7 linked regions of the Homo sapiens genome follow. The protein of the gene in region 1 purifies or fractionates together with the protein of each later gene. This does not show direct contact. Each region holds a gene or a part of one and is shown in the gene's direction. Other genes may lie near its edges.

Evidence for each region.
Region 2: the proteins of ANKRD55 (region 1) and NUP160 purify together in Homo sapiens (affinity purification with mass spectrometry, with the first as the bait; one large-scale study listed by BioGRID). This does not show direct contact.
Region 3: the proteins of ANKRD55 (region 1) and SRPRB purify together in Homo sapiens (affinity purification with mass spectrometry, with the first as the bait; one large-scale study listed by BioGRID). This does not show direct contact.
Region 4: the proteins of ANKRD55 (region 1) and NOP56 purify together in Homo sapiens (affinity purification with mass spectrometry, with the first as the bait; one large-scale study listed by BioGRID). This does not show direct contact.
Region 5: the proteins of ANKRD55 (region 1) and IFT52 purify together in Homo sapiens (affinity purification with mass spectrometry; 3 studies listed by BioGRID and IntAct, with this or other methods). This does not show direct contact.
Region 6: the proteins of ANKRD55 (region 1) and ATAD3A purify together in Homo sapiens (affinity purification with mass spectrometry, with the first as the bait; one large-scale study listed by BioGRID). This does not show direct contact.
Region 7: the proteins of ANKRD55 (region 1) and IFT46 purify together in Homo sapiens (affinity purification with mass spectrometry; 3 studies listed by BioGRID and IntAct, with this or other methods). This does not show direct contact.

The regions. Positions count from the first base shown.
Region 1 is NC_000005.10:56,111,160-56,115,409, reverse strand, and holds part of ANKRD55 (ankyrin repeat domain-containing protein 55), read left to right. Parts: intron 1-3,627; coding exon 3,628-4,250.
Region 2 is NC_000011.10:47,785,576-47,789,825, reverse strand, and holds part of NUP160 (nuclear pore complex protein Nup160), read left to right. Parts: intron 1-1,214; coding exon 1,215-1,325; intron 1,326-1,520; coding exon 1,521-1,644; intron 1,645-3,271; coding exon 3,272-3,373; intron 3,374-4,250. UniProt on the Homo sapiens protein: Functions as a component of the nuclear pore complex (NPC). Involved in poly(A)+ RNA transport.
Region 3 is NC_000003.12:133,811,565-133,815,814, forward strand, and holds part of SRPRB (signal recognition particle receptor subunit beta), read left to right. Parts: intron 1-4,025; coding exon 4,026-4,162; intron 4,163-4,250. UniProt on the Homo sapiens protein: Component of the signal recognition particle (SRP) complex receptor (SR). Ensures, in conjunction with the SRP complex, the correct targeting of the nascent secretory proteins to the endoplasmic reticulum membrane system.
Region 4 is NC_000020.11:2,655,632-2,659,643, forward strand, and holds the end of NOP56 (nucleolar protein 56), read left to right. Parts: coding exon 1-115; intron 116-302; coding exon 303-403; exon of another isoform or gene 404-583; intron 584-769; coding exon 770-918; intron 919-992; exon of another isoform or gene 993-1,063; intron 1,064-1,142; coding exon 1,143-1,264; intron 1,265-1,307; exon of another isoform or gene 1,308-1,379; intron 1,380-1,449; coding exon 1,450-1,587; intron 1,588-1,741; exon of another isoform or gene 1,742-1,857; intron 1,858-2,297; coding exon 2,298-2,663; 3' UTR 2,664-2,762; downstream 2,763-4,012. Other genes in the region: IDH3B (isocitrate dehydrogenase [NAD] subunit beta, mitochondrial isoform e precursor), read right to left, coding at 2,878-2,891, 3,128-3,206, 3,894-3,954. UniProt on the Homo sapiens protein: Involved in the early to middle stages of 60S ribosomal subunit biogenesis. Required for the biogenesis of box C/D snoRNAs such U3, U8 and U14 snoRNAs. Part of the small subunit (SSU) processome, first precursor of the small eukaryotic ribosomal subunit.
Region 5 is NC_000020.11:43,596,945-43,601,194, forward strand, and holds part of IFT52 (intraflagellar transport protein 52 homolog), read left to right. Parts: intron 1-4,250. UniProt on the Homo sapiens protein: Involved in ciliogenesis as part of a complex involved in intraflagellar transport (IFT), the bi-directional movement of particles required for the assembly, maintenance and functioning of primary cilia. Required for the anterograde transport of IFT88.
Region 6 is NC_000001.11:1,514,630-1,518,879, forward strand, and holds part of ATAD3A (ATPase family AAA domain-containing protein 3A), read left to right. Parts: intron 1-1,004; exon of another isoform or gene 1,005-1,186; coding exon of another isoform or gene 1,187-1,229; intron 1,230-1,382; coding exon 1,383-1,459; intron 1,460-2,537; coding exon of another isoform or gene 2,538-2,681; coding exon 2,682-2,783; intron 2,784-3,086; coding exon 3,087-3,146; intron 3,147-4,250. UniProt on the Homo sapiens protein: Essential for mitochondrial network organization, mitochondrial metabolism and cell growth at organism and cellular level. May play an important role in mitochondrial protein synthesis. May also participate in mitochondrial DNA replication.
Region 7 is NC_000011.10:118,555,704-118,559,953, reverse strand, and holds part of IFT46 (intraflagellar transport protein 46 homolog), read left to right. Parts: intron 1-89; 5' UTR 90-124; coding exon 125-169; intron 170-2,063; coding exon of another isoform or gene 2,064-2,216; intron 2,217-2,908; coding exon 2,909-3,048; intron 3,049-4,250. UniProt on the Homo sapiens protein: Forms part of a complex involved in intraflagellar transport (IFT), the bi-directional movement of particles required for the assembly, maintenance and functioning of primary cilia. May play a role in chondrocyte maturation and skeletogenesis.

The DNA.
Region 1 (4,250 bases):
GAGGTGGAGGTTGCAGTAAGCCGAGACAGTGCCACTGCACTCCAGCCTGGATGACAGAGCAAGACCGTCTCAAAAAAAAAAAAAAATAGAATAAAGTGGGTTCCACATCTACTCTTTGCATTCTCTCTGTTGCGATGTAATGTGTTTTGTTTTTTGGTTTGGGGGTTTGCTTATTTATTTATTTATTTATTTATTATTATTATTATTTTTAGAACCAGAGTCTCACTTGTCATCCAGGCTGGTGTGCAGTGGCATAATCATGGCTTACTGCAACCTTGAACTCTTGGGCTCAAACGATCCCCTCACCTCAACCTCCTGAGTAGCTGGGACTTTAGGCATGTGCCACCATGCCCAGCTGGGTTTTCTTGTTTTTTGGTTTTTTATTTTTTTGTAGAGATGGCCTCACTATGCTACCCAGGCTGGTCTCAAACTCCTGGCCTCAAGCAGTCCTCCCACCTTAGCCTCCTGAAGTGCTGGGATTAGAAGTGTGAGCCATCATACCCAGCCACAGTATCATGTTTTGATTGATGTATATAAAAACGATCCAGCCTTATATAAATACGTAGTTGGAAAAGGCAGGTGTATCTCAATAGGCTTTTCAGATAATTGTGTGTATTTTTCTTTGATACGATACCAAAACTTAACAAGCAGCAGTTTCTTAAAGGTTAATTGCAATGTGGATTCTCACCATATCAATGAATTTTTTGTACTCTGTCACATTAGAATACATTACTATACCTTATACTTTAAATGGGTCTTATACACATGCGTGATTTTATTAACACCTTGCATTGGTCATTTGGAAAATATTGGTTCACTTAATTATAAAGATCTTCCAGATGACACATTTCATTATACAATATCAAAAAGTCACATTTGTTAACATCACCACCAATCTATTGGACAAGCTTTATATACTGAGATGGTGTCAAGCTTACAATGTGAATATAAGTTTTCCAAAATTCTAGTTTTTGCTTGAAAGCTAGACTTTTGTCATTGGCTACAATAACTGTCAGTTATTTATCTTGAAATGAAATATTCACTGTATTCGTTTTATTTTATTTATTTGTTTATTTATTTTGAGATGGAGTTTCGCTCTTGTTGCCCAGGCTGGAGTACAATGGCACGATCTCGGCTCACCGAAACCTCTGCCTCCCAGGTTCAAGTGATTCTCCTGTCTCGGCCTCCAGAGTGGCTGGGATTACAGGCATGTGCTACTACCCCTGGCTAATTTTGTATTTTTAGTAGAGACAGGTTTTCTCCATGTTGGTCAGGCTAGTCTCTAATTCCCAACCTCAGGTAATCCACCCGCCTCGGCCTCCCAAAGTGCTGGGATTACAGGCGTGAGCCACCACGCCTGGCCCACTTTATTCATTTTAATATATTTTTATTGTATATATATATATATATATATATATATATAGTATACATATTTTGATATAAATATACCTAGTCAGATGGGTCGAGCGCAGTGACTCACGCCTGTAACCTCCACACTTTGGGAAGCCAAGGTGGGTGGATCACTTGAGCCCAGGAGTTCAAGACTAGCCTAGCCAAGATGGCAAAACCCCATCTCTACTGAAAATACCAAAATTAGCTGGGCGTGGTGGCATGCACCTGTAATCCCAGACACTTGGGAGGCTGAAGCACGAGAAATACTTGAACTCAACTGCAACTTTGTACCCTTCGACCTACACCTCCCATTCCCCCACCTCACCCTCACTTCTGGTAATCACTGTTTTACTCTCTGTTTCTGTGTATTTCACTTTATTTATTTTGCAGAAATTTCTGCAAATACTTAGCTCTACATAACCACAGTTTGTCTGCAAGGCATAAAAATGGTGTTCCGTGAAAAAAGTGTCCGGTTCAGCCCGCGACTCAAACAATTGCACAGCTGCTTTACCCCAAGACAATCATCACACCTCCGTATATAGTAGAATTGCTTACGAGTGCTTCTTATTTTGTCAAACAAGTGTACTCAAGTTAATATTTAATCAAATTAATAACTTGTACTCCCTAAACAAGGACATTATTAAGTTAAAGGACTTTTTTTTTCTGCAAGTACATTGATGCCACTATTGTCCTGATTTGTACTGAGGCAGCCACCATTTTACCCACCACCTCTATTGCACCATCGATGCAAGGCAGCACAGTGAAAAAGACAAATAACGTTGTGATGTTATTATGAATAGAGTTTAATGCCATAAACCCCTTAAAAAGTCGGGGATCCCTCTCCAAGGGTTCAGTGGACCCCATTTTGAGACCCAGAGGCCTAAAGCACAAGCTGTAACAGGAGGAGGAGATGGCTTACACAAGATGCTGCAATAGCATCAATTCACACAGACATATTCTTTATAGGGAAACTTGAGCGTCGGAAGTGCCCTGGGGCTCTCTCTCTGGTGGTATTAGGAGTCTAGAATTCAGTATTTCAAAAAGCCCATTGGAAGGTGAAAGAATAAAGATAAGACTACATCATGGAATAAAAATTCAAAGGATGCACTGTGTGACCTGTAGAGAAAACATTCATTATATGCATCCAAAATAAGTGGTGATGTTTTTCAAATTGCAGATTGCGATATCTCACTCCAGAAAGTAGTGTTGCAATCTGACTCAGGGGCACACACACGGGTCAGGTTTCATCGTTAATTCATACCGCAGAAAGCATTAAGTCAATTGGAGCCTCAAAAGAGAATCACACAGAATTTTCTAAGGAACACAAACAGAATCTTGCCTCAGGGAACCTCTCGACAACTGCTGGCCTTTTTCCTTTATAATTTGCCTGCGCATTGGGCATTGCTCACTTTCTTCTGCAGCCACGCCCGACCTTGGTCATGCACTCCTCCTCTTCCCTCGCTGGAGCCCAGACTAAAGCTTCTTTCCTTGGTTGTTTTTTTTTTTTTTTTTTGCTAGAGATGAGATCCTGCCATGTTGCCCAGGCTGGTCTCAAACTCTTGACATCAAGTGATCCTCCTGCCTCAGCCTCCCAAAGTTCTGGAATTATAGGCATTAGCCACCGTACCTGTTCTTCAGCATACTTTTTTTAAAAGTACTTTTCGATAGGAAAGTTTTAGTTTAAAATGGGGAGGGGTCTCTGAGGGGGATAATGTCAGTCGGTCAGCACTCGGTCCAGGTTTTCTAGGATCTCTGTCAGAGAAAGCCTAAAACCACATTCCCCCCACCTCAGCAACCTCCTCCATCCTTCTGCTCATTGAAGCCTGAACTCAAACCCTTAGGCTTCATCTCTGACTTCAACTTGCGTGCCTACTGACTGTCCTTGAGATGTGAGAACAACACTTTCAGCTAATTTTCAGTTTAGTTAACCTCTTGTTGAAAACAGATGATCTAGGTGTAAATTTTGAAAGGATATCCCCTGAAGGAGCAAGAAAAATCTAAGAAACGTCCTCCTTGGGCAAAGACTGCCCATGGTAAAGAGCCTCTTCTGGGCGGGATTGCCAGGGGTACTGTGAGTTCTTCACACTGCCTTTAACTTGAGAAGGCTTTGGAGGTATCTAGGAAGGATCTCAGAAAACCTGATGAAGCATGTGGAATAGGGGGTCGGTATTTCGGTGAGTGATGTCTCTACTTCCCATACTCACATATCATCCCTGCTCTTTTATATTCGCATAGAACAGAGCCTACTCGACCCCCTCCCTCCCAGAGCAGTCGGCCCCAGAAGAAGGAGAGACGGTTCAACGTGCTCAACCAAATATTCTGCAAAAACAAGAAAGAAGAGCAGAGAGCCCATCAGAAGGATCCCAGCAGGGACCGATACAGAGAGGAGGACACCTCAGAAGTCAATGACATCATCACCACCTTTGATAGCATCGTGGGTACCAACTGCCAAGAACAGCCTGGTGATCAGGTGGCTATGGTTGAATTTAAGAAGAAAACCTCAGACAATTCAAAATATCTCTTACCAGAAAAGAAACCGCTGGCCCGTAAGGGGCTTCCACCAATCAGAACGCAGAGTCTCCCACCCATCACCCTGGGCAATAACTTCCTAACAGCCTCCCATAGGGCCACTTCCCATGCAGGCCTGAGCTCTGCTCCTCATCATATGGCCCAGCGATCTCAGAAAAGTCGAAGTGAGCAGGATTTATTAAATAACAGAACTGGCTGCCAGATGTTACTAGATAACCCCTGGAAGAGTGATTCTAATCAGGTATTTTCCTACAAAGTTTGGACTGTGTCTTCTTCTGATAAGCTGCTGGACAGATTGCTCAGTGTCCGGCCTGGTCACCAAGAGGTCT
Region 2 (4,250 bases), on another chromosome or scaffold:
GTTTCAACTGCTCAGGAGCCAGCATCCCTAAACCCTGCATTGTTCAAGGGTCAACTATACATGCAATTTAGACAGTAGTTATATTGTAACATATACAGTTACATTGTTATATACTATACATAGTAGTAACGTTATATACTATATATTATATATAATAATTACATTGCTGTAAAAATATTGTAAAGTTCCTTCTTTTTAGTTTATTTTCAGCATTCTAATCTGCTAAAGGTTGTCTGGTAGCACTTCGAAAATGTTGTACAACAGTAAGAGAAATGAAAATGCTTAAATAAGAATGTGGTTTTTTTCTTGAATGTTGTATTTAAATCAGCTTAGTTCCAAGCTTTTTTTTTATCAAGTTCTTTTGCTATTTCCACAGAGGCATGATATCCTTCCATAAAGAGCCGAGGCTCTAGATTTGGACACACCTGGTTTTATTTCTGCCTCTCACAGTTTGGTCATATTTCTTTCTTATTGATAGAGATGACAGACAGTATTTCACAATTATAATAGTTAAATGAGGCCAGGTGCAGTGGCTCATGCCTTGTAATCCCAGCATTTTGGGAGGCCAAGGCAGGAGGGTCATTTGAGCTCAGGAGTTCAAGACCAGCCTGGGCAACATAGCAAGACCCTGTAGAAAAAAAATTTTTTAGGCTGGGCACAGTGGCTGATGCCTGTAATCCCAGCACGTTGGGAGGCTGAGGTGGCTGGATCACCTGAGGTCAGGAGTTTAAGAACAGCCTGGCCAACATGGTAAAACCCCGTGTCTACTAAAAATACAAAAATTAGCTGGGCATGGTGGTGCACGCCTGTAATCCCAGCTACTCGGAAGGCTGAGGCAGGAGAATCACATGAACCCAAGAGGCGGAGGTTGCAGTGAGCCGAGATCATGCCACTGCACTCCAGCCTGGGTGACAGATTGAGATTTGTTTCCTTAAAAAAAAAAAAAAAAGTTTAAAGAGTTAAATGAAATTACATGTAGTACCTTGTAAGCACCTCCTCAACTGCAGTCGGTTAAAATACTTTGATTTGACATGGGATATTGCATAATTTGTTTAAGTTAGCATTTATTTAGTGCCCTATTTTCTCCTTCCTTCATGCATTTGGAAATTAGATTGAATGTTACTTAATGTTCAGTGGAAATTGACAGGTTGCGTTAATCTGATGGATACTTCTTTGTATTTTGGGAGTTCAAAATATTTTTCTTTGATGTATAGCAAATCGACAAATTGAAATCCTGGAACTGGAAGATCTGGAGAAAGAGTGTTCCTTGGCTCGCATCCGCCTCACTTTGGCTCAGCATGATCCATCAGCGGTTGCAGTTGCTGGTAGGAATTCAAGAGTTTAAAGCCTCTGACTTGTCAGCACCACGAGCACATTTTAGGTCCAGGCAGTGTATGTAGCATGGTAGATGGGTATAAAGCCTGGGTTATTACTCAGAGATACTCATCAACAAAACAAAATCTTTGGTTTCATTTGTGTATACCTTGGCTACACGAAATAATCTTTTTCCATTTTCACAGGAAGTTCATCAGCAGAGGAAATGGTCACTCTCTTGGTTCAGGCGGGCCTCTTTGACACTGCCATATCACTCTGTCAGACTTTTAAGCTTCCCTTAACGCCAGTCTTTGAAGGGCTTGCCTTCAAGTATGTATAAAATTATTTTTTTATAGTCTTTTCTAATGCAAATATATTATCCTCTTGCTCAGTGTGAAACAGTCGTCATAAGCCAAGTAGCCCATATATCATTTATGATTTGAAGAAGTGTTTTGTTTAATCCATCCAAGCATTCTTAAAAAGAATTTCAGGCTGAGCGCAGTGGCTCACGCCTGTAATCCCAGCACTTTGGGAGGCCGAGGCGGGCGGATCACGAGGCCAGGAGATCAAGACCATCCTGGCTAACAAGGTGAAACCCCGTCTCTACTAAAAATAATACAAAAAAAATTAGTCGGGCGTGGTGGCGGGCGCCTGTAGTCCCAGCTACTCGGGAGGCTGAGGCAGGAGAATGGCGTGAACCTGGGAGGCAGAGCTTGCAATGAGCCGAGATCGCGCCACTGCACTCCAGCCTGGGCGACAGAGCGAGACTCTGTCTCAAAAAAAAGAAGAAGAATTTCTTGGCCAGGCACAGTGGCTCACATCTGTAATCCTACTAATACTTTGGGAGGCTGTGGCGGGTGGATCGCTTGGGACCAGCCTGGCCAACATGGTGAAACCCTGTCTCTACTAAAAATACAAAAATGAGGGTGTGGCACACAACAGTAATTTCAGCCTCTCAGGAGGCTTAGGCACAAGAATCTCTTGAACTTGGGAGGCAGAGGTTGCAGTGAGCTGAGATCGCGCCTCTGCACTCGAGCCTGGGCAACAAAGCAAGACTCTGTTTCAAAAAAAAAAAAAAAAAAAGTTTGTGAATTAGAAATAATTTTGAACTTTCAGAATTTTTCAGCCAGGTGCAGTGGCTTACGCCTGTAATGCCATCACGTTGGGAGGCCAAGGTGGGCAGATCACTTGAGGTCAGGAGTTCAAGACCTGCCCGGCCAACATGACGAAACCCCATCTCTACTAAAAATACAAAAGTTAGCCAGGAGAGGTGGCGTGTGCCTGTAATCCCAGCTACTTGGGTGGCTAAGGCAGGAGAATCGCTTGAGCCTGGGAGACGGAGGTTACAATGAGTTGAGATTGCGCCACTGCACTCCAGCCTGGGCAACAGAGCGAGACTCCATCTTAATTTAAAAAAAAAAAGAGGCCAGGTGCGGTGGCTCATACCTGTTATCCCAGGACTTTGGGAGACCTAGGCGGGCGGATCATGAGGTCAGGAGATCAAGACCATCCTGGCTAACACAGTGAAACCCCGTCTCTACTAAATATACAAAAAATTAGCCAGGCATGGTGGCATGGGCCTGTAGTCCCAGCTACTCAGGAGGCTGAGACAGGAGAATCACTTGAACCTGGGAGGCAGAGGTTGCAGTGAGCTGAGATTGCACCACTGCACTGCAGCCTGGGTGACAGAGCAAGACTCCATCTCAAAAAAAAAGAAAAGAAAAAAGAATTTTTCATCATTAATTTTATCTTGGAAGTAAATTGTCTCTTAATGCTTACTCATGTTCTTGTAGGTATCCAGTTGTGTAACTTGAGGAAGAGATGAGCCAATATTCCAGTAGTGAATTCAGCAAAAGACTAGAGATGAAGTTGTCATCTATCTCTCTAGTTTTAGTATCAAATTAAAGTGGTACGTTTCAGCGTTCAGTTTTCAAGTGTGGAACCATTTTCATTCCAGATGCATCAAATTGCAATTTGGAGGAGAGGCAGCACAAGCAGAAGCCTGGGCCTGGCTAGCAGCCAATCAGCTCTCATCTGTCATCACTACTAAGGAGTCTAGGTACAACCCTGGTGTTCAACCCTGGGTAGTTTTGCCTTTCTAAAAGCTGTAACTGTCTTTCTCTGACTAAATTGTCCTACATAGATCATTTCACTTTTTTCTTTCTTTTTGGCTAAGTTTTTATAGGGGCTGGAAAGTTTATAATTAAGGTGACATCATGTCATTTATTGTCCAAACTAGGATGTCTTTGCCTATGAAATGTCTCCTTCTCCATATCCCCCTCCTCAAAGACTTACTGTTTCATATCAGGAAAGGGTACTCTTACAGGCAAAAATCTGTATTTACTTGTTTCGGAGTGTTATCCTCCTTTTTTCCCCCATTTCTTCCACTGAGCAGTCACTGCATGGTTTCATCACAGTGTCCTCTTATATCTTGTCTCCAGCTGCTGTTCAGCAGTCTGTCACCCATCAGCCCCCATCATCCACTATACCTTCTTCAGATCTCCTCTGGTTCGTATACTTCCCCAGTGCACCCACTTTGTGTCCACGTAAATATACTTCAGCTTCTTCAGAAACCTTCTCTAACATTCCTAACCCTCAGTAAACTTCCCTTTCTGAACTGCATTTGCACTTGGTATTATACAGCTTAGCACTTTAGAGTGATAGCACTTTAGAATTTGGAAGTTCTCTGACATTAGTTTTCAACCCCTAAATTAGCACATCAGAATAACTTATTAAAATACAGATTATGAGAAATCACCCTAGTCTTCTAAGTTAGAACTTCTGCATGATTCTAATGCTTGATCAGGTTTGAGAACCAGTGTTCTGAACCAGTTTCTTGTTTTAGAAATGCAGAAACAAAGGAGTTAAATGAATTATGCATTAATAGCCAAACAAATAACGTTCATTTACTAAATATGTTTGTTTACTAAATACTA
Region 3 (4,250 bases), on another chromosome or scaffold:
ATTTATATATATAGTGTTTTTTTGTTTTTTTTTTTTGAGATGGAGTCTCACTCTGTTGTCCTGGCTGGAGTGCAGTGGTGTGATCTCGGCTCACTGCAACCTCCACCTCCTGGGTTCAAGTGATTCTCCTGCCTCAGCCTCCTGAGTAGCTGGGATTACAGGCACGCACCACCACACCCTGCTAATTTTTCATAATTTTAGTAGAGATGGGGTTTCACCATGTTGGCCAGGCTTGTCTCGAACTCCTGACCTCATGATCCGCTGGCCTCAGCCTCCCAAAGTGCTGGAATTACAGGCGTGAGCCACTGCACCTGGCCCATATATATTCTCAAATTACGTAAAATTGATGTTTCAAGAAGTACAGAACAATATTTCCATATTTCTTTTAGTGTGTGCTCTGGTGTTACTGACTCTTAAGTTCTTCCCTAAAAAGTCTTATGCTGCAGTTTCAGATGCTTCTTTTTTGGTCTCTAACATTAATAAGAACTGAAGAGGAAAATCAGTATGCCACATTTCACTGATTTGAAGACACATTTTAATATCTCTGAATTTAGAATATATCTTATAGTTGATGGTGTCATAGTTTAATTGGCAGTATTTTCTCTTAGCGGTCCCTAAAATAATGTCTTTAATTGGCAGCATTTTAGTTTTGATGGAATGAAGTAGTAGATTCTTTGCCTTTTATTGAAGATGTCTAGACTGAAATTTCATTATTGCATCTTTGCCCACAAGATGGTGGTGATGAACAATTTGTCACAGATAAGAAAATTCCTTGGACAATTGAGACAAATCTAGAGCTGGTAAATTTTGCCATAATTGGGTTTTTATTTCCAATTAAATGTTTTTTCTTTTTCTATTGCCAGTTCTAAATATTTTATGATTTGCAGTATAACTACTCTGTGATTCATGTATTTTGGGTAAATAAAACATGCAAAATATGAAGATAAAACTTAGTTCAAATAAATTATAATCATGATAACATGCAAGTTGAAAAGACATTTACTATATTGGTATGTGACTTTTTTTTAATCCTACTTTCTGGCTTCGCCAAGTTTCCCTAGTGGCTATTTTCCCTCTCCTGATTTGAACATATGCTGTTGCTGTTCTTATCATGGTTCCCCTCCCCCATCTTTTAAACATTGCCTATTTGATTGTCTGAATCCAATAATATCAGTTTCCTTTTCCTGAACCTTAAACACTTTAACTTTCATCTTCCTCACATCTTCCTTTTATTTATGCTCCTTTTTAACCCCCATCCATACTTTTTTTTCCTCTTACATTCAGTGATGAGAATTACCAGGATGCTTATGGTCTTTTGCTCCCCATTGCTTCTTGAATTTTACTTCTTCCCTTTAGATTCAGTTTTCCCTCACTGAGTATATCTTTTAGAAGTGTTTCCAGAGAGGGTGATGAGTAGTCAAATGTTTTCAGTCTTTGTTCATTTGTAACTCTATTTGGCCAGCATTTTGGAATGTCTCTTTTAGCTGAGTGCAGAGTCCTGGGTGGCAGCCGCATCACTCCTGACCTCATCCATCTGTTGCAGATGAGAATGTTTTTGCCAGTCAGTCTAATTGTCATTTCACTGTAGTAAGTCTGCCTGATTTGACCTTCTATCCAGGGATAGATTTTCTTCTGTTCAAGGATGGATTTAGCTTTATCATTCTTGGAATTCAGTTGTGCTATTCCAAACCAAAGATTCTCCTCAGTTTTGGAAAATTCTCACCATCGTTTCTCCAGGTAGTGCTGTTTCCCCATGATCATTTCTCACACTCTGGAATTCTTATGAATGTTATTGAACCTTATTATTTTTGCCTTTCTTGTTTCCTCTCTATCGTATCTTCCAGATCTTTCTACTTCGCATATTGTAAGATTCCCTCAGATTTGTTTTCTAGTTTATTACATTATTTTCAGCTGAGCATGATCTCTGCTTAACTTTTCCATTGATTTATTAATATCATTTACTATATTTGTCTAAAATACTTACCTTTTCAAACCAGCCTGTTTCTTTTTATACTATTCTATTTTTTATTGTAGTTTGTAGTATTTTCTTAAATAATTTTAAACATTTACTTTATAGATAGCTTTATTATCTTAGTTTTGGGGTGCTGATTATTCTCTTTGGGGTACCAGTTATTCTCCCTCATAATTATTTTATTCTGTGCCTTGTAATTTTTGCTCCAGAACCTTTCTTCAAGAGTGACACATCATTGATATTGTGGTGGTTCTTTAATCCCGTAGGATATGAAAGCCTTGCTCCATAAGCGGTTCATAGTTCCTTCTGTTGGGGCCATAGGGCTTCAATAAGTCTGGCCCAATTTTTATGTAAGCCTTTCCCCTTGGGGGTCTTACACCTGGAGAGAGTATAAATTCATACCCTATATCTGTGTGAGGCAGTGGAGGCCCGCTGTTTCTAAGGGAACTTTTTTTGCAAGCCCCGACCTCCCTGAGACTATTTTAAGTTGTAGGCTTTGTGCAGGGCATTCAGTTCTAGCTCCCCAGCTGCATGTTGGCCATTGCATGTCTCTTATCTCCACCTGGGCATTCAAACCCTTGTCCATAAGGCTTGTATTTTTTTTTTTTTTTTTGAGACGGAGTCTCGCTCTGTTGCCCAGGCTGGAGTGCAGTGGCGCGATCTTGGCTCGCTGCAAGCTCTGCCTCCCAGGTTTACGCCATTCTCCTGCCTCAGTCCCCTGAGTAGCTGGGACAACAGGCACCCGCCATCACACCAAGCTAATTTTTTGTATTTTTAGGAGAGACAGGGTTTCGCCGTGTTAGCCAGGATGGTCTCGATCTCCTGACCTCGTGATCCGCCCGCCTCGGCTTCCCAAAGTGCTGGGATTACAGGCGTGAGCCACCGCGCCTGGCCGGTTTTTTTGTTTTTTTGTTTTCTTTGAGATGGAGTTTCGCTTTGTCACCCAGGCTGGAGTGCAGTGGCATGATCTCAGTTCACTGCAACCTTCGCCTTCTGGGTTCAAGTAACTCTTCTGCCTCAGACTCTCAAGTAGCTGGGATTACAGGCTCCCGCCACCATATCTGGCTAATTGTTATATTTTTAGTAGAGATTGGGTTTCATCATGTTGCCCAGACTTGTCTCGAACTCCTGACCTCAAGTGATCTGCCTGTCTCGGCCCCCCAAAGTGCTGGGATTACAGGCGTGAGCCACCGCACCCGGCCCCCTAAGACCTGTTGTCTGCAGTTTCCCTGGGCTGCTGCACTTTAGCTTTGATATCTCTTTGTTTCTGTCACATGAGGAGTCCCACTATGGCTGCCTTAGTTCAGGCCCTACCTGGTCACTGTGCTTCTAGTTCAAGCGCCCTCTAAGATTGCTTTGTCTTCCATTTAGGCACCAATATTCTTCATAAGACAGAAAAGCATGAACTCCACAGGTCATTGTGTCACGCCTCACTGTCTGACTTGGTTCTCCTTCATTTCCCCATCTCCCTGTGTACCAGCTTACCTTGACTTCCCCAGGGAATGTGTTTCACGTATTTGTGGCTTGAACATACTGTAGGCTGAGTATCCCTTATCCAAAATGCTTGGAACCAGAAGTGTTTTGGATTTTAGACTTTGGATTTTTGGATTGGGGATACTCAACCTGTACTTTCCAGACAGCCTGTGCCCCAATTTTTGGTCTAGCTAAGATTCAACTCAACTGTTACATTCTCCTTAAAGTTGCCTTTGACCTGGTCTCATTTAAATGATCTTTCTCTTTATTCCTGTTACACATGTGCATAGTTTTGTCTTGGCATTTATCATATGGTTCTCTATATGATGATTTGTCTTGGAGGACAGGCATCATTTCTTACTGTCTTTTTTCAGCTTCAGTCATTGATACACAGTAGCACTCAATAGTTCCTTGTTAAATGAGGATTTATGTTATATGATAACATATGCACAGACCTGCATGTGTGTCTGCTGAGTGTTAATCACCAAGATTGACTTTGAAGAAGTTCAGGATAGTTTTTCAAGATAATGATGTCCTGTTACACGTTCACATGCCAGTTTTTCTTGTTTTCTCCCTCCAGGGCTATTGTGTTTGTTGTGGATAGTGCAGCATTCCAGCGAGAGGTGAAAGATGTGGCTGAGTTTCTGTATCAAGTCCTCATTGACAGTATGGGTCTGAAGAATACACCATCATTCTTAATAGCCTGCAATAAGCAAGGTGCCATCATGTTTTCTTGCAATAATAATTGAGTTTTTTGGGGATTGCTGCTACTAAGAATTATTTCCATTATTTACAGTTGTTATTA
Region 4 (4,012 bases), on another chromosome or scaffold:
GAGCTTCTCCAGTCGTGTGGTGTCTTTATCTGAATACCGCCAGAGCCTACACACTTACCTGCGCTCCAAGATGAGCCAAGTAGCCCCCAGCCTGTCAGCCCTAATTGGGGAAGCGGTGCGTCACAGGGGACTCAAAAATGGGAGAATAAGGACTGTTGCCATGTGCACCTGCACTGCTGTATTTCGTGACCCACCATGTCTTCCCTAGTTGTGCTTGATGGGGAGGTGGGGAGCAGGGCTGTCGTGCAACTGGGCAGGTCAGCAGTTCATTTCTCTGACTGCTTCCTTGACTCTCTCTCCAGGTAGGTGCACGTCTCATCGCACATGCTGGCAGCCTCACCAACCTGGCCAAGTATCCAGCATCCACAGTGCAGATCCTTGGGGCTGAAAAGGCCCTGTTCAGGTACCAGTGAGGGCACCTGCCCACAATCAGGTGCCACTTCTGGTGCCCACTGCTTGTTGGGGGATCACGGTGATGGCTGACCAGGGCTCCCTGACCTATACAGGCCTCTGCTATGGGGGTGATGGCCAGTCCTGGTGTCTGAGTGATTCCCAGGGCCCAGCAAAGGGACCAAGTTTCCAGGTCAGCGACATTGGATGCCTTCCCTCTGCCTCTGGGAGCTATGGGTTGGCATGCATTGGGGTAGAGATCCAATCTGGCCTGAGGCTCACTCAGGACTTCGGGGTGAGAGGAGGGGAGGAGCTGAGCTGCCTTGGCTAATGGGGTTGAAATTTCTGATCTTAAACTCTCCACTGAATATTCTCTCAGAGCCCTGAAGACAAGGGGTAACACTCCAAAATATGGACTCATTTTCCACTCCACCTTCATTGGCCGAGCAGCTGCCAAGAACAAAGGCCGCATCTCCCGATACCTGGCAAACAAATGCAGTATTGCCTCACGAATCGATTGCTTCTCTGGTATGGGTGGGGGGGCGTTGGCAGGTGTGAGAAGGGGCTGGGTGGCTGGGTGGGGAGGCTTGCAACCATAGCTTCCACAATGATGGCAATATTTTTCGTCAACAGCAGTTCACCTAGTGAGTGTTGAGACTCTGGGTCTGAGTGAAGCTGAGGGTAGAGGGAACACAGGGTTGGGGTAGTTTCTCTCTTTGGGCTGACAGGCTTTGTCACCCACACACATCCAGAGGTGCCCACGAGTGTATTCGGGGAGAAGCTTCGAGAACAAGTTGAAGAGCGACTGTCCTTCTATGAGACTGGAGAGATACCACGAAAGAATCTGGATGTCATGAAGGAAGCAATGGTTCAGGTCAGTTGGGCTTTGCTGGGTGTGGAGTGGCATAGCTAGCTGTTGGAGGTGATGAACTGTCTGAGCCTGACCTTGTAGAATGGAGGCAAAAAAACTGATTTAATGAGCCTGATCCAATAAAGCCAGAAAGGAGTCCTCAGAGCACCAGAAGTCTTCAGGCCCTTTTAGCACTTTTCTTTGACCAGGCAGAGGAAGCGGCTGCTGAGATTACTAGGAAGCTGGAGAAACAGGAGAAGAAACGCTTAAAGAAGGAAAAGAAACGGCTGGCTGCACTTGCCCTCGCGTCTTCAGAAAACAGCAGTAGTACTCCAGAGGAGTGTGAGGTCAGTAGGCAGCACGGCCCTGGCAGAGATCCTAGGTTGTAGGATTTTCAACAGCAGAACAAAGGATATGCTGCATCAAGCTGTGGTCTTGAGTCCAGGCTTTTGGACTGAAACAAGGACCTGAAACATCTAAAACTACCTCTTGATTCTATAGGAAGGAGATAGGTGCTGAACTTGCTCAAGAGCCCAGAGAGCTGGTTGTAGCTCACACCCGTTCCCTGGGCATGTGTGTTCTGTCCTCGGCTGCCTCCCAGGAGTCCTCAACCTGGGGTAGTGTAAATTCCTGCTCTGCTTATTATCAGACGTGTGTCCGGAGGTGGTCGTGTTTCACAGTGGGGATGGGGGCAGGGAGGTCCCCAATGTGCTAAGCTACAATCATTCTCCCTGAGATTTTCATTTAGCACCCAGTTTCTTAAACAGTGTTTCAGGGCCCTGTCTGGAACTTGGCATGATGGTTCTGTTGCGACCAGCATGGTGGGTGTTTTTTAGGTTTTTTTTTTTAATGGGCTGAGGTAATTTCTCATGACATGTTTTCCTTCTAATTTGGGACAGCCTTTGGGGTGGATTTCTAAAGTTATACCCACACAATTAAACTATCCCAGAAACACTGGGCAATGTTAACGACACGCGTTCCCCTGCCTTGGCTACTTAATTGCTGAAGATGTAATGAGCACTGTTCTCACAGCCTGTTCCCCTGTCCTTCCCTTTAGGAGATGAGTGAAAAACCCAAAAAGAAGAAAAAGCAAAAGCCCCAGGAGGTTCCTCAGGAGAATGGAATGGAAGACCCATCTATCTCTTTCTCCAAACCCAAGAAAAAGAAATCTTTTTCCAAGGAGGAGTTGATGAGTAGCGATCTTGAAGAGACCGCTGGCAGCACCAGTATTCCCAAGAGGAAGAAGTCTACACCCAAGGAGGAAACAGTTAATGACCCTGAGGAGGCAGGCCACAGAAGTGGCTCCAAGAAAAAGAGGAAATTCTCCAAAGAGGAGCCGGTCAGCAGTGGGCCTGAAGAGGCGGTTGGCAAGAGCAGCTCCAAGAAGAAGAAAAAGTTCCATAAAGCATCCCAGGAAGATTAGAATGCAAATGGACATTCTCTGGGAGGTGGGGCATACCATAGCCCAAGGTGACATTTCCCACCCTGTGCCGTGTTCCCCAATAAAAACAAATTCACAAGAGTTGGTTCATGTTCTTTATTGAACACCTTACATGGGTATGGACAGGGCCTATGGGTGGGGCAAGGCAGCAATGACAGCCTCAGTGAAGTCATGGCAAGTAGCATAGCCACCCATGTCAGAGGTTCGAACCTGTGGGGGAGAATCATCATCATCCATGTGGCCTGGGCTCCATCCTAACAATCCCCATCACCACCCAACAGTCTGTCCCCTAAGGAAGCCGGCCCAAGGACAACCTAGGCTCTACCCAGCAAGGTGACCATGGTCCACTGCTTAGAGGCACAAGGTCTCTTCCCTGGTACACTGCACTGAAGGGTATGGGGAGTGTGGTCCTTGCAAGGTTGGAAGAAATAAAGGGCTCTAGCTCCCTTTAGTCTGCAGGTGACCGATGACAGACTTGATGAAGTCGGTTGTGGTGCTGTAGCCGCCCATGTCTCGAGTCCGCACCTACAGCCACCACCGGCAACAGCCGTGGGGAGGGAGAAAAGAGAGCCCATGAAGGGAGGTAGGGCAATGTGATTGAGGAAATGGAAGCCAAGAATGCGTGACAGCCAGAAAAAAGGCAATGCACAGGAATGGAAGGAGGAGCCAGGATGGGAAGCACATGGACCTGCCACTCCTCTTAAGCCACTATTAGCTGTGCTGCAGCCAGGGCAGGACAGGAGGCTGAGCAGGCAAAGATGATGGGAAACGCAGATCAGAGGCAGGATGTGGCTACCTTCCTTGGAAGAAATAGAGACAAGACCAGGTGGAAGGAAAGAATCACAGCGAAAAGGAGATGGGGCGTGAAGGTGAAGCTGATGCTTCAGCCTGCCTGTATCCCTTGCTGTTCCACCCCCAAGGAGAGCTGCAAGTTCTGCATTCAGATGGCCCATGAAAAGGGCAGTGGATGGAGCAGGAAAGAGGGAACAGCAGATGGGATCTAAGAGGCAAAAGAGATCAAGAGGATGAAACAGCCAAGAGAAGGGAGATGAAGAACAGCCCTGAGAGGGATGCAGGGATGTCAGGGAGCAGATGTTCTGGGGACCTGGGGGGAAAGGAGACCCCCATTCAGGTTCCCCAGAGGGTAGTGCCGAGGTGCTGACACCAGAACTACTCTAAATCCTGAAGCCAGCACTACTCTTCTCAACTCACCTTGCCAACTTTGATCACCTTCTTCACCGCATCTGCGATCATGCTGGAGTGATACTCAAGACTGTGGATATGGACAGGAAGAAACTGTGACTCCCCCAAGACACCTCCCGCTAATTTCC
Region 5 (4,250 bases), on another chromosome or scaffold:
ATTGGCCAGGCTGGTCTCAAACTCCTGACCTTGTGATCTGCCTACCTCAGCCTCCCAAAGTGCTGGGATTACAGGTGTGAGCCACCGAGCCCAGCCAGTAGCCACATTTCTTTGCTATATTTTTGCTTTGAAAATAGGAAAATTCCGCCAGGCGCGGTGGCTCACACCTGTAATCCCAACACTTTGGGAGGCCGAGGCAGGCAGATCACCTGAGGTCGGGAGTTCAAGACCACCCTGACCAACATGGAGAAACCCCGTCTCTACTAAAAATACAAAATTAGCCAGGCGTGGTGGCGCATTCCTGTAATCCCAGCTACATGAGAGGCTGAGGCAGGAGAATCGCTTGAACCTGGGAGGCGGAGCTTGCTGTGTGCCAAGATCGCGCCATCTCACTCCAGCCTGGGCAACAAGAGCAAAACTCCATCTCAAAAAAAAAAAAAGAAAGAAAATAGGAATTCATTTAAAATAAAAGTGTTTATTATTCTAGTTCATGGAATGGATAAAGAATGATAAATGTAAGGCCCAGAATACAAATGACAAGTATTGGTGAGAATGGGAAGTTATTGGAACCCTTCCACACTGATGGTGGGAATGTAAAATGATGCAGTCACCATGAAAAACAGTATGGTAGTTCCTCAAAAATTTAAGCATAAAATTGCCATATGATGGCTGTGTGTGGTGGCCCACGCCTGTAATCCCAGCACTTTGGGAGGCTGAGAAGGGTGGATCACTTGAGGTCAGGAGTTCGAGACTAGCCTGGCCAACATGGTGAAACCTCATCTCTACTAAAAATACAAAAATTAGCCGGGCGTGATGGTGTGCGCCTGTAATCCCAACTACTTGGGAGGCTGAGGCAGGAGAATCACTTGAACCTGGGAGGCGGAGTTGCAGCGAGCAGAGATCGGGCCACTGCACTCCAGCGTTGGCAACAGAGTGAGACTCTTTCAAAAAAAAAAAAAAAAAAAAACTGCCATATGATCTAGCAATTCCACTTCTGGGTATATGCCCAAAAGAATGGAAAACCAGATCTCAGAGATAGTTGCACACCTATCTTCCTAGCAGCGCTATTCACAATAGCCAAAAGGTGGAAATAGCCCAAGTATCCATCGGCAGATGAGTAGATAAGATATGGTATATACATACAATGGAATATTATTCAATCTTAAATAGGAAGGTAATTCTGATACATGCTACACATGGATGAATCTTGAGGACATTATGCCAAACGAAAATAAGGCAGACACAAAAAGACAAATACTGTATGATTTCACTTATGCAAGCATGAGGTACGTAGAGTAGTCGAATTCGTAGAGACAGAAAATAGAAGGGTGGTGGTTGCCAGGGCCTGGGGGAGGTGGGGAATGGAGCGTTGCTGCTTAATAGGTATAGAGTTTCAGTTTTGCAAGATGAAAACAGTTCTGCAGATTGATTGCCTAACAGTGTGAGTATATTTAATACTGCTGAACTAGGCCAGGTGCGGTGGCTAACACCTGTAATCCCAGCACTTTGGGAGGCTGAGGTGGGTGGATCACTTGAGGCTAGGAGTTTGAGACCAGCTTGGCCAACATGGTGAAACCTCATCTCTACTAAAAATACAAAAATTAGCCGGGCTTGGTGGCACATGCTTGTACTCCCAGCTACTTGGGAAGTGGAGGTGGGAGAATCGCTTGAACCTGGGAGGCGGAGGTTGCAGTGAGCCGAGATTGCGCCACCGCACTCCAGCCTGGCGACAGAGACCCTGTCTGAAAAGAAAAAACAAACAAACAAAAAACTGCTGAACTATATACTTCAGAATGGTTAAGATGGTAAATTTAGGAAAGATTAGGTGTGTTTTTTCACAGTCAATAAAACAAAAAACCCAGAACATAGAAAGAGCCATTTTACAGAGAATGGGAAGTACCTTTGTGCTGAGAGAGAATATGGGGAATAGAGAGGTTGAGGCAGGGCAAGGCCAATGTGGTCCTTAGATTGAGGCAGGCCAAGGTCTCCTGCTGTTACTCTGGGTGGTGCCATGGGGAAGAGGTCCACTGGGGAGCATTTCTAGTGCACTTTGTTTCTCAATTTGATTGCAAAGTGACCTTCCCCCGCTGGGAATGGCATGGAGAGGGACATGATTGTTTGATCAGGTTAATTGACAGAAGGAGTAGAAATTACCATTGGGAATGTGGAGGTAACCAGCAACTCCTACCCACTGAGACCCTGAGGGATATGTACACACAGAGGGCAGTGGCCTGCAGAGCAACACTCTATTGCTTGTTGGGCTTCGGCTCCATCTCCCCATCCACCTAGCGAAGCCAATGAGAGAGTTGGCCTGATGTTTGCCAGGGACCAACCAGCCTCAGGAACACAGGGGCATCCAAAGAGAGGGTCAGAACCTGGTGCCTGGGCCTTTTCCCAAGTGGAGATGGGTGCCAGGCCAAGCCTTAGTTTGGGCTTCCAGGCATGGTAGGCTGATGCATCCAAGAGACACAAGTCCTTCGAGAGGCAAATTTGATGTAACTTTAGCCTAATAAAACGTCCTCTCCCAGACCAGTCCCTGACACCATACCTTCTCTTTAGAGTTGGAGTGAGGTGGGAAGAAAAGGGAAAAAAGCTGTTAGCTTTTTTTCTAGGAATCAGCATTCCTTTGTGTTACAGTTCTTCCAATGGGCTCATGCTTGTGAGATCACTGCTTTCCTTGTCATTGCTGCTGGCCTCCTAGACTGTTACCCCTGGAGAGCTGTGTGATGCCTTTTTCATGTTGACTTCCAGAAACTTCTGTGACAGGACAGACATCATATGTCTGATATTAGATGCTAGTATCATGCTAGAAACTAGGCTGAACAGTCTTTCCTTATTTCCACCTCAACTACATTGACGCATTACACTAGCTTTGTGGTGGTATTCAGTTACGACCAGGTAACCACGTGGCTGAGACGAGTATTTTCCAACCCTAACAGACCAGCATCCACCTATATTACAGATGCCAACTTTGTTACCCTGAATTGAAATGCAAAGATAATCTAACCCACCACCATTAAAAAAGTAAAGCAATATAACTTCCTAACTTTAATGTACAGAAATTAAAGGATGATTTATAAAAGAATATGTGTATTTCAAATTGTAAATGTTTATGCATATATATACTAGAAGAATATACATATTTCAGTTTGTTAATGCTTGGTCATACATGCATTAGAACACTTCTTTATGTTTGACATTTTGAAATAAATGTTTAATAAGTATGTAGAACTCCGATGAATGGGATAGGTACATATGCAGACTGGTGGAAGTGATGTATTGGCAATTCAAATCATGAGCCGTGTTGCTGTCGGTGATGTGATTTTTCCAAAATACTGACTAACTCTTGGTAAAGTTCTATTTTTTTTTTTTTTTCCTGAGACGGAGTCTTGCTCTGTCACCCAGGCTGGAGTGCAGTGGAGTGATCTCAGCTCACTGCAAGCTCCGCCTCCCGGGTTCACGCCATTCTCCTGCCTCAGCCTTCCGAGTAGGTGGTACTACAGGTGCCCACCACCACGCCCGGCTAATTTTTTGTATTTTTAGTAGAGATGGGGTTTCACCGTGTTAGCCAGGGTGATCTCGATCTCCTGGCCTTGTGATCCGCCCGCCTTGGCCTCTGGTAAAGTTCTGTTAATAAAAAGAGTATAATTCTTCTCTCAGTTTACATGGTAGTTGGGTACCTCCGAATTCAGTATATGTTAAATCGTGCAAAAAATACTTTGTACAGTATTTACATAGAATTTGAGCTGGGCGCAGTAGCTTACTCCTGTAATCCCAGGAGTTTGGGAGGCCGAGGCGGGTGGAACACCAGACGTCAGGAGTTTGAGACTAGCCTGGCCAACATGGTGAAACCTTGTCTCTACTGAAAATACAAAAATTAGCCAGGTGTGGTGGCAGGCTCCTGTAGTCACAACTACTCAGGAGGCTGAGGCAGGAGAATCACTTGAACCCAGGAGGCGAAGTTTGCAGTGAGCCGAGATCGAGCCACTGCAGCATGGGTGACAGAGCAAGACTTCATCTCAAAAAAAATAAAGAAATTGGAGTTAGATTTTAGGCTGAGCTTCTTTTGTTTGTTTGCTTTTTCTTTTTTAAACCTCCGTGACTATCTGAGAAGATATTCAAATGCTGTGGAATAGTTCTTTACTGTGTGGGACTGGTCTGAATATTGCAGGACCTTAACTTCCCTGCCCTTCACCCGCTAAAATGTCCTTAAACATTAATATTATGGCATTAATATTTTGCCATATTAA
Region 6 (4,250 bases), on another chromosome or scaffold:
TCTGTCTAAATGCAACGAGTGCTCCCCACGGCACTTCCCCCTGCGTCAGTCACCTCCAAAAATTACACCTGAGCTGAGAACAGACGCTGGGCTCTAGTTAGTGACGTGTTTGCTGCAGTTGACTCTGAAGGCTTAAAAAAGTGAGACGGGCTGCGGGAGGAAGAGAGACGGGAACAACGCACCAACCCAGGAGCATCGGGGGTCCCTGCCTACTTTACGTGTCTTTCTGTGTTAGCAGATTTATATGTTTATTTATTTATTTGAGATGGAGTTGCCGTCCGTCGCCCAGGCTGGAGTGCAGTGGTGCAACCTCGGTTCATCGCAACATCCACCTCCTGGGTTCAAGCAGTTCTCCAGCCTTGGCCTCCCAAGTAGCTGAGATCACAGGCGTGCACCACTGTGCCCTGCTCTTTTTTTGTCTTTTTAGTGGAGACAGGGTTTCGCCATGTTGGCCCGGATGGAGATTTTTCTTTTTTAAGTCTCTCTCTGTCTAGCTGGAGTGCAGCGGTGCGATCTGGGTTCACTGCAGCCTCTGTCTCCGGGGTTCAAGCCATCCTCCCACCTCAGCCTCAGAGTAGCTGGGATTACAGGCGTCCGCCACTGCGCCCAGCTAATTTTTGTATATTTAGTAGAGATGGGGTTTCACCACATTGGTCAGGCCGGTCTCTAACTCCTGGACTCAAGTGATCCACCCGTCTCAGCCTCTCAAAGTGCTGGGAGTACAGTAGTGAGCCACCGCGCCCAGCCAAAAGATTTTTATGGTAAAGTTTTATGATGGGAAAACTGTCATCCCAGAAAATTTTGAGACCTGATGCTGAGGCCTCAGCAGCTCAGAGAATACGTACTTCTGTCCCACGACACCCAAACATCGACCTGTGTCAGTTCCCCTCTAGGAACAAAACGTAACTGAGGACGTTGTCAGATGCTTGTCCTCGTCACCCTGAGCTTGTTGGCTGGTATCCTATTCTTATTCATTCCCTTTCTTGCCTGCATGTGCTTGATAGCAGATCAATGACAACAGCCATTGGAAGCTTAGGAAAAGCGAATGTAACGTGAAAAAATAGAGGACACTTTAGCCATCGCCTGACTTTCTGTTGAATTGGGAAAGAGCCTCCTCCCGTCCACGTGGGATGGCCTTCCTGATGTGGCTCTCCAAGACCATCCCTGGGGGGATAAAACCTCACAAATGCATCAGGCCGTGTGCTGGGGATGGTGCATCGTCACGCCAGGTCTGACTAGGAAGGAGGATGGGGAGGCAGGGCTGGGGGCTTTGAGGTCGAGGCGTGGCCGTGGATTCCAGAAAGCCCCTTGGCTGGTGTGCGTGCCTGCCCAGCGGCATCCGTGTATCCTAACACCTGCCCTCCGTGTCCTTGCGTCTGCAGGTTATGCCAAGGACGCCCTGAATCTGGCACAGATGCAGGAGCAGACGCTGCAGTTGGAGCAACAGTCCAAGCTCAAAGTGAGTGGGGCCGGTGTGGGTGGGGAGGCCGGGGCGCACATGGGGTTCGGGCATGGAGATTGGTAGGGCTACTGCCGGTGGGTAGGGCCGGGGGTGTGTACATGGGCAGCAGTGGGGCCCAGGGCCAAGCTTGGGCGCCTCATTTCACAGAAGGAAACAAAGGGAGGTGAGAGACGCTGCCGCAGAGCCGCCCGAGAGGGAGGGCTGGTGTTGGTGAGGGCGTCTGGTCGTCCGGAGGGAGGGCCGGTGTTGGTGAGGGCGTCTGGTCGTCCGGATGGCCTGGATCTTCTCATTTCATTACACTCAGCAGGATTTTTTTGTTTTATTTCGTTTTATTTATTTATTTTGAAACGGAGTCTCTGTTTCCCAGGCTGGAGTTCTGTGGTGCCATCTGGGCTCACTGCAACCTCCGCTCCTGGGTTCAAGCAATTCTCCTGCCTCAGCCTCCTGAATAGCTGGGATTACAGGCACCCGCCACCACACCTGGCTAATTTTTATATTTTTAGTAGAGTCGGGGTTTCACCATGTTGGCCAGCCTGGTCTTGAACTCCTGACTTCAAGTGATCCACCTGCCTCGGCCTCCCAAAGTGCTGGGATTACAGGCTTGTGCCACTGTGCCTGCCTTGTTTCATATTATTATTTTTTTATAGACAGAGTCTTAGTCTGTCTTCCAGGCCGGTGTGCAGTGGCGTGATCTCAGCTCACCGCAACCTCTACCTCCCGGGTTCAACCTCTTTCCTCAGCCTCCGAGCAGCTGGGACTACAAGAGCCCGCCACCACATCTGGCTAATTTTTGTATTTTTAGTAGAGATGGGGTTTCACCATGTTGTTCAGGCTGGTCTCGAACTACTAACCTCAGTTGATCCACCCACTTTGGCCTCCCAAAGTGCTGGGATTATAAGCGAGAGCCGTCGCACCCGGTCCACTCAGCAGGATTCCTAAAATAAGCATGAGCTCTGCCCTCAGTGCAGTCCAAAAGGGGGTGTCCGGCCTCCCTCCCGGGGGGCCTTCGCGGGCTTCTGCTGGTGCTTCTGTGCCTGTGGGTCTGGATTCCTCCAGGGCCTGATCCTGGGTGCAGATGCGGCTGGAAGCCCTGAGCCTGCTGCACACACTAGTCTGGGCATGGAGTCTCTGCCGTGCCGGAGCCGTGCAGACACAGGAGCGGCTGTCAGGCAGTGCCAGCCCTGAGCAAGTGCCAGCTGGTGAGTGCTGTGCTCTGCAGGAGTATGAGGCCGCCGTGGAGCAGCTCAAGAGCGAGCAGATCCGGGCGCAGGCTGAGGAGAGGAGGAAGACCCTGAGCGAGGAGACCCGGCAGCACCAGGCCGTAAGAGCGCAAGAGGCCGCGAGGGAGGCCGCCCGGCTGCGGGGAGCGGCCTGGGGCAGGACTGGGAGCTGGGTGTGGTCCCGGGGCACTCTGGAGTCAGCCATTAGAGCTGCCCTCGGAACGGCCTTGCACAAACGCCTAAGACCTGTAAGGTCCCTCACTGCTGAGCCGGACGGGAGGTCCCCGCGCCTCCCCACGTTTGTGTGAGGCTGATGGCGCGTCGGAGTCCCCGGCGCTCCGCCCAGTCGGCCCAGACTGCAGCTCCCGGCTGAGATGTGTCTTTGCCGCCCTCTTCTCCCCCAGAGGGCCCAGTATCAAGACAAGCTGGCCCGGCAGCGCTACGAGGACCAACTGAAGCAGCAGGTGAGCTCAGCCTCCCCTGCGAGGCGCCTGCGTCCCTGAGAACGTAGGTGGCTTTGTGGGACCAGTCAGTGGGTCAGAGGCCACGGGGCAAGAACGCTGGGGTTGCTGACGGTGGGTGCTAGAGCAGGGGAAACTACTCGGACAGACACGCACCAGCACACGTGTACAGGCACACATGCAGACGTGTGCACACATGTACATGGAGACACAGGCACCTACCCACACGGACACACACTCCTCGCACACACACTCCCAGCACACACAGACAGGTGCACCCACTTCTGCACACACGGGCACACACACACCCCTGCACACACGGGCCCACACACAGACACCCCCACACAGAGGCCTGCACTCACACACCCGCAAACATACCCCCACACAACACGGGCAGGCACACACCCACATGGACACTCACACCTGTAAACACACCCCCATACAGACAGGTACGCACATACACCCCGCACACACACACACAGATACGCACACACACACCACACACAGGTACGTACCCCCCCACACACACACAGGCGCACACATACCCCCCACAGGCTCACTGGCACCCGCGCACTCGGGCACACACACAGCCCCACACACACAGGCGCACACCCACACACACATGGGCATGCCCCCCCATAGACGGACACACACACACCCACACACATGGGCGCGCGTACACCCCCCTATACACATGGGCACAGCCCCCCCGCACACATGGGCACGCACACAACCCCCCCACATGGGCGCACAGACCCCACACACACATACGGGCACACACGCCTTCCCGTCACAGGGACACACACACACACCCGCACATGGGCACACACCCACACACGGGCGTACACACCCCCCCCCACAGGCACGCACAACCCCCCCACCCCCCGCACGGGTACACACACACACACACACACACACCCAAACGGGTGCACAACCCACCCACACATGGGCACAATCACCCCCACACACATGGGCACAGTCACCCGCCTGCACATTCGGGCACCGTCACCCCCCGCAAACGGGCACCGTCACACCCCGCAAACGGGCACACTCACCCCCCTGCACACTCGGGCACAGTCATCCCCCGCACACATGGGCACAGTCACA
Region 7 (4,250 bases), on another chromosome or scaffold:
GGTTAGAGCATAAAATATTAAAAACTAAAAAATACTTGTTTTTAAAAATCATTTTAACAATAATCTAAAGGAAAAACTTTTTTTCTAAGGACTTCCTCGTTCTGCCCATCTTCCTAACAAGGCTATGGCTGATAACAGCAGTGATGAGTGTGAAGAGGAAAATAACAAGGTACAGTAAAACTCACAGCTTCTTGTAGAATTTCTGCTTTGGGTTTTTAGTAGTTAGAGATGACACCAGTTCAACGGTAAACATTTCTTGAACACTCACCTCCAGGGGTTAGGGACCTTTGAGCTCATGGAGGAAAATCAGTTACAAAGAGCCTTGAGATTTTGACCCTTCTTCAGGAATAAAGCCTACTACTACAATTGACTTTGGTGAGGAATTTCACATAATGTAGGCCAGTGTTTCACAAACTTTCCTGATCATAATACTCAACTGAGGTACTTATTTTTAAATATACGGATTCCCAGTCCCAGCCCAGAATCTCAAAAGTAAAAGCCTGGGAATTTATATTTTTTAGGAAGCAGTCCAGGTAATTTTATGCTAAAGCGAGTTTGAAATTATCAGTCTAGGCATTTTTTCATTGTCAATACTTGTGATACTGCCAGTATTTTGTGAAGGAGATTTTAATTTTGAGGTCTTAAGACCCAGATGTTGGCTGCTGTTATTCTGTGTACCTAGAGAATCACCCTGCTTCTGAAAGAAACATGGCAAGAGGCCCACCTCTCTAGAAACATATAGGACCTTAGAGTTGCACATATGATTTCTTAAAAACCGTTTATGTTGGCCGGGTGTGGTGGCGCACTCCTGTAATCCCAGCACTTTGGGAGGCCGAGGCGGGCGGATCACCTGAGGTCAGGAGTTTGAGACCAGACTGTCCAACATGGCGAAACCCCATCTCTAATAAAAATACAAAAAATTAGCTGGGCGTGGTGGCGGGTGCCTGTAATCCCAGCTACTTGGGAGGCCTCCCAAGGTGCTGGGATTACAGGCACAAGCCACTGTGCCCAGCCTGTTTTTTTTGTTTGTTTTTTTTTTTTGAGACAGAGTCTTGCTCTTTCACCCAGGCTGGAGTGCAGTGATCTTGACTCACTGCAACCTCTGCCTCTTGGGTTCAAGCAATTCTCATGCCTCAGCCTCCCGAGTAGCTGGGGGATCACAGGCCTGCACCAACTCGCCTGGCTAATTTTTGTATTTTTAGTAGAGATGGGGTTTTGCCATGTTGGCCACACTGGTCTTGAACTCCTGACCTCAGGTGATCCTCCTGCCTTGGCCTTCCAAAGTGCTGGGATTACAGGTGTGAGCCACTGTACCCAGCCTGATGGCTGCATTTTAATGGTTTTTGTTTTTGTTTTGAGACAGAGTCATCTCGCTCTGTTGCCTAAGCTGGAGTGTAGTGGCATGACCTCAGCTCGCTGCAACCTCCGCCTCCAGGGTTCAAGCAATTCTCCTGCCTCAGCCTCCTGAGTAGCTGGGATTACAGGCGTGCGCCACCACGCCTGGCTAATTTTTGTATTTTTGGTAGAGATGGGGTTTCACCATGTTGGTCAGGCTGGTCTCGAACTCCTGACCACATGATCCGCCTGCTTCGGTCTCCCAAAGTGCTGGGATTACAGGCATGAGCCACCACCCCGGGCTGACAATATTCTTAAAAGTTCCCTCTGCCAAAACTGCTTCCTATGTGACTAAGGATAATTTTGGCAAATCTTGAATTGAGAAAGAATGCTCTAGAAAGTTCTTATCAGTCATATACTAATAAGGCATAGTCACTGAATAAATTCTGCAACTGTGTTTCATTATCTGCCATGCATATTACAGCTTAGTTAGAATATACTTTATGTATAATAAATTTGTTATTCTTAGAGCAAAATGTGACTAAAAGCAGTTTTTGGTGTCCTGTAACGTGTCACAATTTTGTGTGCCAATAGCTGCTTTACCATAAAAACAAATTAATTTTAAACAACTGGAATCAAACGTGTTAACCTCAGTATAAGCCATACGGTATATAGAAACCAAGTTTTGAAAACCTACTTTTAAAGGGGGCCAATTGGTCATCCTTCAGGTCCTAAGGGAGGGCATGCCACAGGCTCCAGGCCACAGAGGCAAAGACATGGACCCTGTTCCACCTGCCCCTGCAAGTCTCAAGTGCCACCAGACCCCTTCTCATGTACTTGAGAGGGTGGGATGGTACAGAGAGAGCCAGAAGCACAGAAAGGTAGGTTATAATGTCAAGAACAAAAGAGCTGTTTATCTTGAGAGAGAATGTGTAGTCATTTTATGTAATTTATGGGGTAAGGGAAGGGAAATACAGATAGGTCAGATACTCCATGAAGAGAAATATCACTGAACAAAAATGGAAAGTCCATAGTCCCTGGGACTGCTGGTTTGATGGGCACAAGGTTGATTTTGAACTTTCTTCTTTTGATAGTTTCAAGCAGCTTATGCTGGGCAGTCTTGCAAATTAAGTATTAGATTTCCTCTCTATGGTCTTTGTGAGTATTAAGACCCCTAAAATTTCTATTCCCACTTCATATTCCCTGATTTTCTTCCAAAATAACTAGAGTTGCCATCCTCTTCTTTGAAAGTCCATAGCTTTTCGGGCCGAAGCTGTCTAAAGTGTACACAGGGCCCTGAAGATCTAAGTAATATGTACAATAGATAAAATTAGAATTTATACCCCAGCCTCAAGTAGAGAAATGGAATAGGGTTCTAGAAAGTGGAGTCCCCATTTGTAGCTGAGCAGGGGCAGAAGAAGGCTCTCAAGCCCCTTCTGGGAAGTGCCCCCTTCTCTTTCTGGTGACGAGGTGCCAGGTGGTTGGTGTATTGGTTAGAGCAATAGAGAACTGGGCATAGGTACATTTGATTTTTTTACTTGAAGCTTTCTATGCCTGCCCTGCCCTATCACAGGAGAAGAAGAAGACCTCACAGTTGACACCTCAACGGGGCTTTAGTGAAAATGAGGATGACGATGATGATGATGATGATTCATCTGAAACTGATTCTGATTCTGATGATGATGATGAAGAGCATGGAGCCCCTCTGGAAGGGTGAGGAAAGAACACCCAAGCCAAGGGTGCTCTTCAGAATACCTCCTTCAAAACACTGGAGTGGGAGGACGTCAGTTAGAAGTGAAATTCCAGCATCTCTTTTGATCTCCTGTATTTAGGATTTTCAGATGTCTCAGAAACCCAACATAATAATGAGTTTTCCTCCCTTTCTGACTCCACTACCTTATCCAGTCCTATAGTATCACTTTACTATCTGAAACGTTTGTGGGCTTGGGGGTTACATGAGATTTTGCTGAGTAAATCAAAAAGGTGGTGGCCAGGCATGGTGGCTCAAGCCTGTAATCCTAGCATTTTGGGAGGCTGAGGTAGGAGGATTGCTTAAGGCTGGGCGTTCAAGACCAACCTGGGCAACATAGCAAGACCTCGTCTCTACAAAATTTTATTTTTTTTTTGAGACAGAGTCTTGCTCTATCGCCCAGGCTGGAGTGCAGTGGCGTGATCTCGGCTCACTGCAAGCTCCGCCTCCTGGGTTCACGCCATTCTCCTGCCTCAGCCTCCTGAGTAGCTGGGACTACAGGTGCCCGCCACCACGCCCAGCTAATTTTTTTTGTATTTTTAATAGAGACGAGGTTTCACCGTGTTAGCCAGGATGGTCTCGATCTCCTGACCTCGTGATCCGCTCGCCTCGGCCTCCCAAAGTGCTGGGATTACAGGCGTGAGCCACTGCACCCGGCCGCCCAAAAATTTTTTAAAAATTAGCTGAGCATGCTGGTGTGTGCCCATAGTCCCGGCTGCTCGGGAGGCTGAGGCAGGAGAATCACTTGAGCTCAGGAGTTTGAGACTGCAATGAGCTATGATCGGGTCACTGCACTCCAACCTGGTCAACAGAGTGAGACCCTGTCTCAAAAATAAATTAATTAAATTTAAAAAATAATAATAACACTGCTAAAAACACTTCTATAATTTTTTTTTTCTGGTGCAAACTATTTTCATGTCAGATATTTAAATCTCTTTTTTTTTTTGAGACAGAGTCTTGCTTTGTCACCCAGGCTGGAGTGCAGTGGTGCGATCTTGGCTCACTGCAACCTCTGCCTTCCAGGTTCAAGTGATTCTTCTGCCTCAGCCTCCTGAGTAGCTGCGACTACAGGTGTGCACCACCACACCTGGCTAATTTTTGTATTTTCAGTAGAGATAGGGTTTCAACCATGTTGGCCAGGCTGGTCTTGAACTCCTGACCTCAG